Linked DNA regions of Homo sapiens. The protein of the gene in region 3 purifies or fractionates together with the protein of the main gene of each other region. This does not show direct contact. Each region holds a gene or a part of one and is shown on either strand. Other genes may lie near its edges. The genes, in order: GLB1, SNAP25 and UNC13B.

Region 1 (3,655 bases), on a different chromosome or scaffold from region 3:
TCTTGAGGACAATCCAGTCAAGACAAAGAGGTGGATCCCTCTGGGAGAGTCTGTCTGGTTTTCATTTATGCCAAGCCCAGTGCTCCCAGAATATCCCCACCTGCATCCAGCCCCACACCCCTGGGGCTTCTATCATAAGCTGTCTGCTTCTCCACTCTTCCTCATCCATTTTCACTTCCCAGTCACTCCGCCTTGTCGTTTGAAGACATTGGCATATCTTCCTTCACCGCCTTCTCCTCTCCCTCATGTCCTGTTTTCATCCTAGATCACCTTACCATCACTCATTCAACACACTTCTCATTCTGTGGCCACTATGTGCCCAAGGTGTGTGCCAGGCACTAAGGATACAATCATGAATAAAACCAAACATGGTCCTTTCCCTCATGGAACTTTCAGTCTAGTGAGGGAGGCAGACTCATATTAAAAAGTAAAACCATAGCTGTGATGGATGCTAAGAAGGGCTATGGGGTTGATAATAATTGGTGCATTTTGCCTTGTCAGGGAGGTCAGGGAAGCCTTCCCTAAGATAGTGATGCTTGTCAGAGATATGAAGGATGAGTAAGAATTAGCATGGCAAGAAGGGAAGAAAGCATGTTCCTGGGAGAGGTAACAGCTTGTGCAAAGGCCATGGGGTTGGAGGGGAAAATGTCAAGTGTGGAAAGTAGGTAGAGACTAGATTGGGACGGGCCTTATAGGCCACGTTAAAGTTTTGTCTTTGTGTTGAGAGCCATTGAAGCAGGAGAGTGACATGATAAGACTGTGATCTGACAAGCTCCTCTGACCCCATTGTGCAGAATGGTTTGGGTAAGGACACTTATGGATTCGAGGAAACCATCTAGGAGGCTGGACCATAGTCTCATTGAGAAACTGGGATGGTGGTATCTAAGATGGAGATGACATCAACTATTTGAGAGATGTTCAAAGTTGGATCAATAAATTGTGACAATGGATTGGACAGGAGGGTTTGGGGAGAGGGATATGTCTCGGATGACTCAGGTCTCAAGCTTGCAGCTGGGCAGAATGGTACCATTTGCTGAAAGAAGCAGCTTCAGAAGGGGACTTAGGCTTAGAAAGGGGGGTCATGAGTTTGAATTTAGACCAATTGTGTTTGAAAAGCTGCCTTAGTCTATTTGGGCTGCTATAACAAAATACCATAAGCTGGGTGGCTTATAAACAACAGGCATTTATTTCTCACAGTTCTGGAGGCTAGGAAGTCTTCAATATCAGGGCACCAGTAGATTTGCTGTCTGGTGAGAGTCTACTTCATCATAGACAGCACCCTCTATGTCCTTACATGGCTGAAGGGGCAAAGGAGCTCTCTTGGGTCTCTTTTATGAGGACACTAATTTCATTCATGAGGGCTCCACCTTCATGACCTAATCACCTCCCAGAGGGGGCCCCACCTCCTAACCCATCACATGGGGGCTAGAATTTTAACAGATGAGTTTTGGGTGGACACAAACATTCAGACCATAGCAGAGGCCTTGGAGAATGGCTGGGAAAGACAGTATTGGAGGAGGGTTGTTGGATCTATAGGCTGGGAATTCAGGGCAGGGATCTGGGCCAGGAATGTATGTAGAAGATCATTGTTGTATAGATGATTGTTGAAAACATGGGCTGGATGAGGTCTCTCAAGGAGAGAGGATGCAGAGGGAAGAAAAGAGGACGTAAGGCTGATGTTTGAGGGACAAAAACATGATGAAGACTGAAGAGGAGAGACCAAACAAGTAGGAAGAAAACCAGCATTTATGCTGCCAAGAGGACAAATAAGATAAAGACAGAAGCACTTCGGTGGTTTTAGAAGCAAGGAGGCCCTTGGGAATCAGTAAGCCTTGTTCCAGTGGAGTGAAGCATCTCCCAGCCAGATTGCATTCTATAGAGAAGACCAGGGTAAGGAATACGAACAGGAATACTTGAATATAAACGTTCTTTTTGAGAAATTTAATTCTGAAGAAGAGGAGAAAATTATGTTAATAGCTGGAGGAGGAGAAGGCAAAAGATGTACATGGTGTGTGTTTAATAAAATGCCCTTTTATTTATTTATGTGTTGCTTGTTTAAAATTTATTGAAATGTATTTTCATTATTCTGTTTGAAATATTTTCTTTTTTTTTTTTTTTTTTGAGATGGACTCTGTCACCTAGGCTGGAGTACAGTGGTGTGATCTCTGCTCACTGCAACCTCTGCCTCCCGGGCTCAAGCAATTCTCCTGCCTCAGCCTCCAGAGTAGCGGGGACTACAGGCACACACCACCACTCCTGGCTAATTTTTTTTATTATTTTTATTTTATTTTTTATTTTTTGTTTTTTTTTTATTTTTATTGGAGACGGGGTTTCATCATGTTGGCCAGGCTGATCTCGGACTCCTGACCTCAAATGAAGTCTCGAAAAGTGCTAGGATAGACATCTGAATTCATTCCAACTTATAGTTATTATAGTTATTATAATACTGCTGTAAACACTTGCATGTAAGTTTTTATGTGAACTTGGCCTCGAAAAGTGCTAGGATTACAAGTGTGAGCCACCACAGCCATCCTGTTAGAAATATTTTCTACTTTCCCATATGATTTCTTCTTTGAACCATAGATTATTAAAAAGTATGTTTTACTGGGTGTGGTGGCTCATGCCTGTAAATCCCAGCACTTTGGGAGGCCGAGACGGGTGGATCACCTGAGGCCAGGAGTTCAAGACCAGCCTGGGCAACATGGCAGAACCCCATTTCTACTAAAAATACAAAAATTAGCCAGGCGTGGTGGTGAGTAACTGTAATCTCAGCTACTTGGGAGACTGAGGTGGGAGAATCTCTCGAACCTGGAAGGCAGAGGCTGCAGTGAGCCAAGAGCATGCCACTGCACTCCAGCCTGGGTGACAAAGCAAGACTGTGTCTCAAAAACAAAACAAAAACAAACAAACAAAAAAAGTATGCTGTTTAATTTCCACATATTTTGGGTTTGTAAAAATATCTTGTAATTATTAATTTGTAACTTAATTCCTCTATAAAACTTCTAAAATTTCTCTCTAGGGAGAGAAATCTCCATGATCTTGGGTTAGGCAAAGACTTCTTAGATTTGACACCTAAGGCATTATCCTTAAAGAACAAAAATTGATAAATTGGACTTTATCAGAATTAAAAATATTTGTTCTTCAAAAAGCATTATTAGGAAAATGAGAATCCAAGCCACAAACTGGGAGAAAAATAATTTTCAAATCATATATCTAACAAAGGACTTATATCTAGAATATGTAAAGAATTCTTACAATTCAATAATAGACAAACAGCCCAGTCACAAAAGGAGCAAAGAACTTGAATAGACATTTTACCAAAGAAGGCATAAGATGGCTAAGTACATTTGCATTTGTATACCTTCTTTGGTAAAATGTCTATTATAAACTAAAATTAGTGGCTGATTAATGTTCAACATTATTAATCATTTGGGAAATGCAAGTCAAAACCAAAATGAAATACTACTTCACACTCACCAAGATGGCTAAATAGTAAGAAGGACAATAGGCAATGTTGGAAAGGACATGGGGGAAAGGGAATCTTCCCACATTGCTGGTAGAAAGATAAGAAGGTACATTTGGGAGCATAGTTTGGCAATTTCTTCAAGGGCTAAACATAGATTACCATAGAACCCAGCAATTCCGCTCCTAGGTA
Region 2 (3,655 bases), on a different chromosome or scaffold from region 3:
AAAGAGGAAAAGAAGCATATGGCCTTCATGTAACCTATAATAAAGAACCCTGGAAATCTGGTATGGCAAATAGCAGGTAACTGAACATAACAACAGTCCCTTCCTCTTTCTCAGAGTGGTGGAGGTAACTACTTCACAAGCATTAGCTCCTTTAGGTCTCACGACAACCACTTGACATATATGCATGGCAGCAATTGCTCTCCTTTTACAGATGTAAATAAAAGTGAGGCTCAGTTCAGATTAGGTAAATTGTTCAGGGTTATACAATTGAAGTGGCAGAGCTGGCATGCAGCCAGCTGACTCTCCACCCATTGCTCCATGAACTTGTTTGGACACATAGTTTCTCTGGTCACTTACACCACCATATCTCACCTGGCTATTTAGCTTGGAGGACTCAGCTTTTTAGATTTGGCTGACTCACGTTCTATGTATCAGCAGTGTGCTTTCTGTTAGAGGATCTCAATGTATTTTGTGCAACTCATGGGATAATTTATGGGGTGGTGGGGAAAACCATGGACTTTGCAGTCAGAGACAAGTGTTCCGAACTCTTTTAAGGCTGCCATGGAAAATAAAGGAAACAACATACATCAAGTGCCCAGTGCAGCACACAGTAGACATTTAGGAAGTTAGTTACTTTTTTCCTTGTGGTCATTAAGTGGTAGTATCTTCAGTCTTCTCTGGAGAAAGTTGGATGCAGAGTAACCCGTGTTTTCATGAGAAGGAATGGGGAAAAAAGATATGCAAAATTCAATGCTCAACTGGTGAAGGTTTTTTTCTAAGGACAAATGGGACTTATTTACCAAATCATGCCCAGGCTTATGATTCTCTCCCAGGCAAGAGGACACTGACTATTTGAGAGGAAAAGCCCAGAGACTGGTGTCTCTGAAGGACACTTTTAAGGAAGCGGAATTGACATGAAAAACTTGTGTCCACCATGCCAATTCTAATAGCACAGCAGCAAATATGTGACCCTGAAAACACAAGTTGGCCAAAGCCATAAATCTACCCCACTGGTGAATGTAATATATGTCTCAAATGGATGTATGAAATATCCTTTTCATCCTAGTGAACAGTAAAACATTTAAACTTATAATTCATATATGCTAAACTGCTTGACTTTAAATGCTCTTAGTGAATGGCTTTTAATCTCTGAATATAAACCTGATTTTAGCAATGCCTTTATTGAGAATCCTTTGATCCTTCGTTAGCATTTTAACTCCTGACTCATAAGTGATAAAACAACAGATTAGAATATTATACCATTTGCCATAGTTTGGCAGCTAGTTAGGGTAAACCTAAGTAATTCCTTGGGACATAATTTTATTCCAATATTTAGGATGAATCTATGTGCAAGGGTACACAACAATTCCTGAGTTATTCTGATCATAACATTTGATCAATAAAAAGCAGGATTACTTACAGTGGTAGAATTCTTTTCTCTGCAAAGGGGTAGCTGGTATCCCCATTCGCTCACTTATTTCCTGCATACATGGGTGTGGCAGGCACTGTTATAGGTACTGAAGATTCAAAGAAAGCTAAGATATTACCCTTGCTCTCAAAGACTTCCAAAGTCTATTAAGAAAGAGAAATACATAAGTAGGTAACTACAAAGCAGTGTGATCAATCTTACAAGGGAGATAGGGGCATTGCTCATTGGTAAGAGGTGAATTTCTAGAAGTAGGAGTTTGGGAAATTAAGACATAATTCTACTTGATCCAGAATCACTACATAATTCTACTTGATCCCGAATCACTGAACTTTGTTTAATGACAGGAAGTTTTCAGAGGAGGAAAGTGGATTGGATTGGGAAGTACTCTCATCCAAAGGATCCTTTCTTAGTCAACCTATTCTTGCATTGCTCCATGAGTTTTGGAGTTGGGAATAGGATTTCTGGCCCAGGAGGTACCATGTTTCTTAAAGCTTGACCCCTTCCTCCCATGAGCGGCAGAAAGTGGTCTCTACAGGGAGAGATCCCAACAGATTGGGATACTGGAATATAGTCATGTATTTAAGGGACATTTTAGTGACATCCTAGTTGATTGCCATGTAAATAGAGACAAGTTCACACAAAGACATACCTTAGATATTTACTGAGTTCGGTGATGGCTGAGGCTGGTTCTTAATATGTATTTGTTTATGATATAGCAATCTCTCTGTAGATACTGACAGCTCAGTAGAAACCTTCAATAGATTGTATATTTTGATTAGAGAGCCATAGCTCTTTTCTACATTGAATTAATGTCTTAGATTCTAAAAGGCATCCCATTGAAACATGCCTTTTAAAATAATGACACCTCAAGAGGGGACACCTAGCATAACACATGGAGGGCAGAAACATGATGATTTTATTTACAGCTCTGACTTTAGGAACCAGTGTATGTTTTCCTGGTACATGGCAGGTGTTCAATAAATATTTGTTCAATGGATTAATTAATGAAGAATGCCATAATAGCAGCTGATTTATGATGAAGCAATACATGGGCAGTGATCATGGAATTGGAAAAAGTAGATACATTCAGCAATTTCTCTGGCATAAATTAGGAATGGACTTTCCCATTAAAATAAAAAATTCACTCAACAAGGCTAATGCGTATTGAAATAGTTTGCCAGTGTTCTTCCTAGCAGTCTTTCTGGCATTTATTTCTGTGCATTTTCTGTTTATTGATAGAGAAGTCACAGTGTGATTTACCTATACCTAGCTGCCAGACCAACTTCGGAATAACTGCAGGGAAATTTAAGAAATTCACTGTTTTGGAATTTGCCAGTTATTATTCTTTGAAACTGTACCAAAGATGAACATAAATAAAGGAGATTAACAACTTGGTCTGAGACTCTTCATGGAAAGGGAACTCTGTCCAACTTGCAGGATTTTCAGAGCTCAACTGAGAAAATTCTCTGAAAAAGGAATGAGGCAGGAGTGTAGGGCTGAACTCTGGCCTCAGGGGGGCACCTAAGAGACTTTCATTTTTTTACTTGCTGTTATCAGTAAAGGACAGAAACCACTGATTCAAGGTTACAGGCATGGAAAGTCATCTCTCAAGTTCAAGATCTGTGACTAGTGTCATTTGAATAAAGGAAGTGATGGGGAAGCTGGGACCAGATGGTCATTTTGTAGAACCTGCCACTTTGGAGGAAAATAACCTTTTTCTTTAAGTAAAAATGGACCACCTTGGAAGATTAAGACACAATGAGTCAGCAGAAAGTGCCAACAGTCTCAATTTAAGACATGAGAATTAGACATCTTTGAGTAATATGAACCATATCAACAACAGCAAAGAAGAGGATGAAATATATTTTTCCACAACCAAAGAAAGCAAGCCATAAGCCCAGTACAGCTGTTATTCAGCATCATTCGGGAGCAGGCATCATTTGACTGAATTTCTCTGGAATCATTGTTAAGCATTTAGAAGGAAATGCTAATCCTTAAATAGGATTTCCCCCCATCTCTTTTTAGGGATACAGATTTGTTCTTACCAGTAAGTCAGTCACTGCTGAGGTTGACCTCTGTAGTCAACAATAAGAAAATCAGTTAGGATTTCCTCTTGTGATACCATGTTTTACCTTGGTGGAAAGACATTGAAATCTGCAGTAGGTTGTGACAAGGCGAATGTGTTTTTTTTTTTTCCCCTCCGGGACATGTGAATTTATTTGATGT
Region 3 (3,655 bases):
AACTGTCCCCGCCAGGGGAAATCTGTCAGGAGACAGTTTTAATTGTCACAACTGAGGGTTGCAAGGATTGCTACTGGCATCTAGTGTGTAGAGGCCAGTGATGCTATTAAACATCCTATAATATACACAACAAAGAATAATCTGGCCCAAAATGTCACGAGTGCCGAGACTGAGAACTCTGGCTCTGCTCCAACCTATCAGCTAGTCTAACCGATTTAGCTCAGTAATAACATTCAGACTCTGTACTCAGCTTCATTATGAGATGTTAAAGAGGATACATTTTAAATTTTTCTTCCTATGGATACCAATTGGCAGACACATTGCTAGGCCCTGAGGAGGCTGAGGGGTGGGTTAAATCTGACTTCTAGATCAATTCTTTCTTAACTCTGTCCTGGGTTTCTCAGCCAGGGAAAAACAAAACAAAATGTTCACCAAAAAAGTTACAACAGAAATCACTGTTATTTTCCAATGGGATTTTCCCTAAGTTCCTCCTAATTGCCTGGTATTTTCAGGCTGATTTCTGATCCTCTAGCCCATACCAGCAGAATAGGTACCAGGTCACTGTTCTGAGTACTTCAACACACATACACATATACCTGTACATAAGTACATGCACACACACTGACCCTGACCAACCCCTTTGAACAAGTTTGGGCCAGAGGTCAAAGTAGCATTCTTAATAGGTTAGGAAGTCAGCCAAAGTACCTACCACAGCCCCAGTGGATGAAATAACCTGGCTCAAGTCAGTTCCTGACTCAGAGGCTGCCATATACAAGGTCAACTAGTAAGCTATGAACTGCAGACTCAAGAAGCCCTGGTACACTGCAGCTCACTAACTACAAAGAACCCAAGTGCTGGCTGGGTGCAGTGGCACACCGCTGTAATCCCAGCACTTTGGGAGTCTGAGGCAGGTGGATTGCTTGAGCTCAGGAGTTCAAGACCAGCCTGGGCAACATGGTGAAACCTTGTCTCTATAAACATACAATTAGCCAGGTGTGGTGGTGCACACCTAGTAGTCCCAGCTACTCAGGAAGCTGAGGTGGGAGAATTGCTTGAGACCAGGCTGTTGAGGCTGCAGTGAGCCAAGATCGTGCCAGCCTGGACAACAGAGTGAGACCCTATCTCAAAAGCAAACAAACAAAAACCCAAATATTCTTCAGAGATCTCCAAAATGTCTTGGAAAGTGCACCATAAATCAAAGGAAGCAATACAGAGTTGAGCCTGGAGGTGTTAACTACCACCATACCCAGCTGCAGGGAAACAAATGACAATCACTTATTTTCAGCAATACCACAGGGCAGGTACTGAGGAAGCCATGTGAGCTCCTCAAGGCAGCTGTTGCCTACCTCTCCTGGGGACCTAGGAAGTGGTCTTTTTGCAGCACCAGATCTGGGGGAGGGTGGGTTGTGGCATCTTCTTTCATCTCCTTGGGTTCACATGCTGCCTCCTTCTCTGCTTGACCTGTCACCTCCAAGGGTTTCTCTTGTTCTCCAAAACCTGCTTGGCCATCTCTGGACAGGCTGTGAGAGCTGTGGCAAGAATGAATCGAGTCCGTCTCCCGATGGTCGTCATCTTGTTCGTGATACTGGTCTAGTTCACTTAGCTGAGAGCTTCCTTGACTCACATTACAGGAGGAGCCATACCTACTGCTGCTGGTGGGGCTGTGAGAATGACAGAAAGACAGATAAGTAAATAAATGCAATCAGGGACCAGGACAAAAGAAAGGAGACATCCAGGAAATAATGACTACATTAGTAGCAAGAATCAAATAGGAGGTTCCTGGGAAGAGAGGACCAAACTTCATAATCTAGAAGAATTAGTCTCTATTCAGCGAAAACACAACAGGAAAACAACACAACATGCTGGGTTCTCCAACGACACTTAACCTCAGTTCTGCACTTGACTTTGAAGTATATTTTATCTTAATAGGCTATTTGTGAGTAGGATTAAAAATTATTAAAATGGCCTGTTACTTATTCCTAAAATTCTTTATTCAGTCTTCTAAAGAAGCTTGTCCAGTGGCTGTGATTAATCTTTCTTTAATTTCCACACAGTAAAATGGAATGAATGAACTCCACTCTTTTTCTATTACTTATTACATTGAGGTCATCATTTCTTCCTCTACAATTGTAAATGTGTACGCCTGTACCTTAGGATGAGCAAAGGAGAGCAGACATGTTCTTTCAGTTATCATCTCAGTTTCCTCATCTGCAAGATGAGTTAATAGAACCCATTGGAAGATAGAGGCCAGGACCAAGAGAATACACAAACGAATGGTCTCATCAACATAAATGCTACAATGATATCCCTGGCAGCATAGGAAGCGTCCCAAAGATGAACATCTGTAACTGAGCTTCTTTCAGGGCAAGGCTCAGTTTTGGAAAGAGTGGACAAAGTCCAACTCCAGGATCTGGGTCAGAGCCGTATTCATGCATCTCTATATCTGAAGACCAGCAAGCCAATCTTTTCTCAATCACCTGTATTCCCATATCCAGAAAGTCATGAGAGAAAGCAGTTATAGCAGAGAATGTGACAGTGGCAAGAAGGGCAGAGTGGTGGAAAGAAGAGCAGTATCTAGAAGTTACTTCCTTGAGTTTTATGGCCCTGTCATCTAAGGGCTTCAGTTCTTTTGAAGAATTTTCTTACCACAGAGTCAAGCCTTTAACTAAAGGGCTTGTGTTTACCCTTGGTCAAAGAAGAGAAATCACTGTTATTTTCCAATGGGATTTTCCCTAAAGTTCCTCCTAATTACCTGGTATTTTCAGGCTGATTTCTGATCCTCTAGCCCATGCCAGCAGAATAGGTACCAGGTCACTGTTCTGAGTAGTTCAACACACAAACACATATACTTGTACATAAGTATACACACACACACACACACACACACACACACACACACACACACTGACCCTGACCAACCCCTTTGAACAAGTTTGGGCCAGAGGTCAAGGTAGCATTCTTAATCTGTACTGTATGGTACTGCTTCTTAGGGGAAATAACAGTACCCTCTGCAGATAGATCCTGTACACTGCTCGAGACTGAAGAACTACAGCAAAGGACAGCTCTGAGTTCCTGTGAGATTTTACTCAAAGCATTTATCAGACATCAGCCTTGAGGGTAGTAAAAGGCAGAGATGATACCATGGAAGAAACTATGCAAATCTGTATGGAATAGGATATGGGAATACAGACTATCCCAAGGCATCCTTTGCACTTTGTATTTTGCTTAATACACTCATTGCCACTGGAGAAAGCATCTTAGAAGACTTGAAAAAACAAAGCAAAATAGATCTATCCCCATCTCCTACAAGATATAAGTGCCTAAGGCCCAAGGAAGCATCCTAGCCTATCATGTAGTTGTAGTTAATATATACCACCAACTACTTACTACCTCTTCCTGCCCTCCTTTCTCCATTTCACATTATACAAGGCAGAGCAAACCAGAGTGAGTAAATATCGGGGGCCCAGCTTTTGCTTTAAGCAGGAAGCTCCTTGTTCCAGTAAATGAATTACATTTGGCAGAGAGAGAAGGGGAGGATGAAAATACCCACACACTGAGTTCTTGTTATTTAACCCCTAATTAACATGAAGCTCGGGTACTAGGAAAGACACAAGAAGGATAAAAAGCAAGCTATGATTAATCTACCACTAAGTCA

The links.
Region 1: the proteins of UNC13B (region 3) and GLB1 purify together in Homo sapiens (co-immunoprecipitation; one large-scale study listed by IntAct). This does not show direct contact.
Region 2: the proteins of UNC13B (region 3) and SNAP25 fractionate together in Homo sapiens (co-fractionation; one study listed by BioGRID). This does not show direct contact.

What each region holds. Positions count from the first base shown.
Region 1 is NC_000003.12:33,010,105-33,013,759, reverse strand, and holds part of GLB1 (beta-galactosidase isoform a preproprotein), read left to right. Parts: intron 1-3,655.
Region 2 is NC_000020.11:10,225,204-10,228,858, reverse strand, and holds part of SNAP25 (synaptosomal-associated protein 25), read right to left. Parts: intron 2,182-3,655; exon of another isoform or gene 2,079-2,181; intron 1,573-2,078; exon of another isoform or gene 1,421-1,572; intron 1-1,420.
Region 3 is NC_000009.12:35,308,473-35,312,127, reverse strand, and holds part of UNC13B (protein unc-13 homolog B), read right to left. Parts: intron 1,662-3,655; coding exon 1,347-1,661; intron 1-1,346. UniProt on the Homo sapiens protein: Plays a role in vesicle maturation during exocytosis as a target of the diacylglycerol second messenger pathway.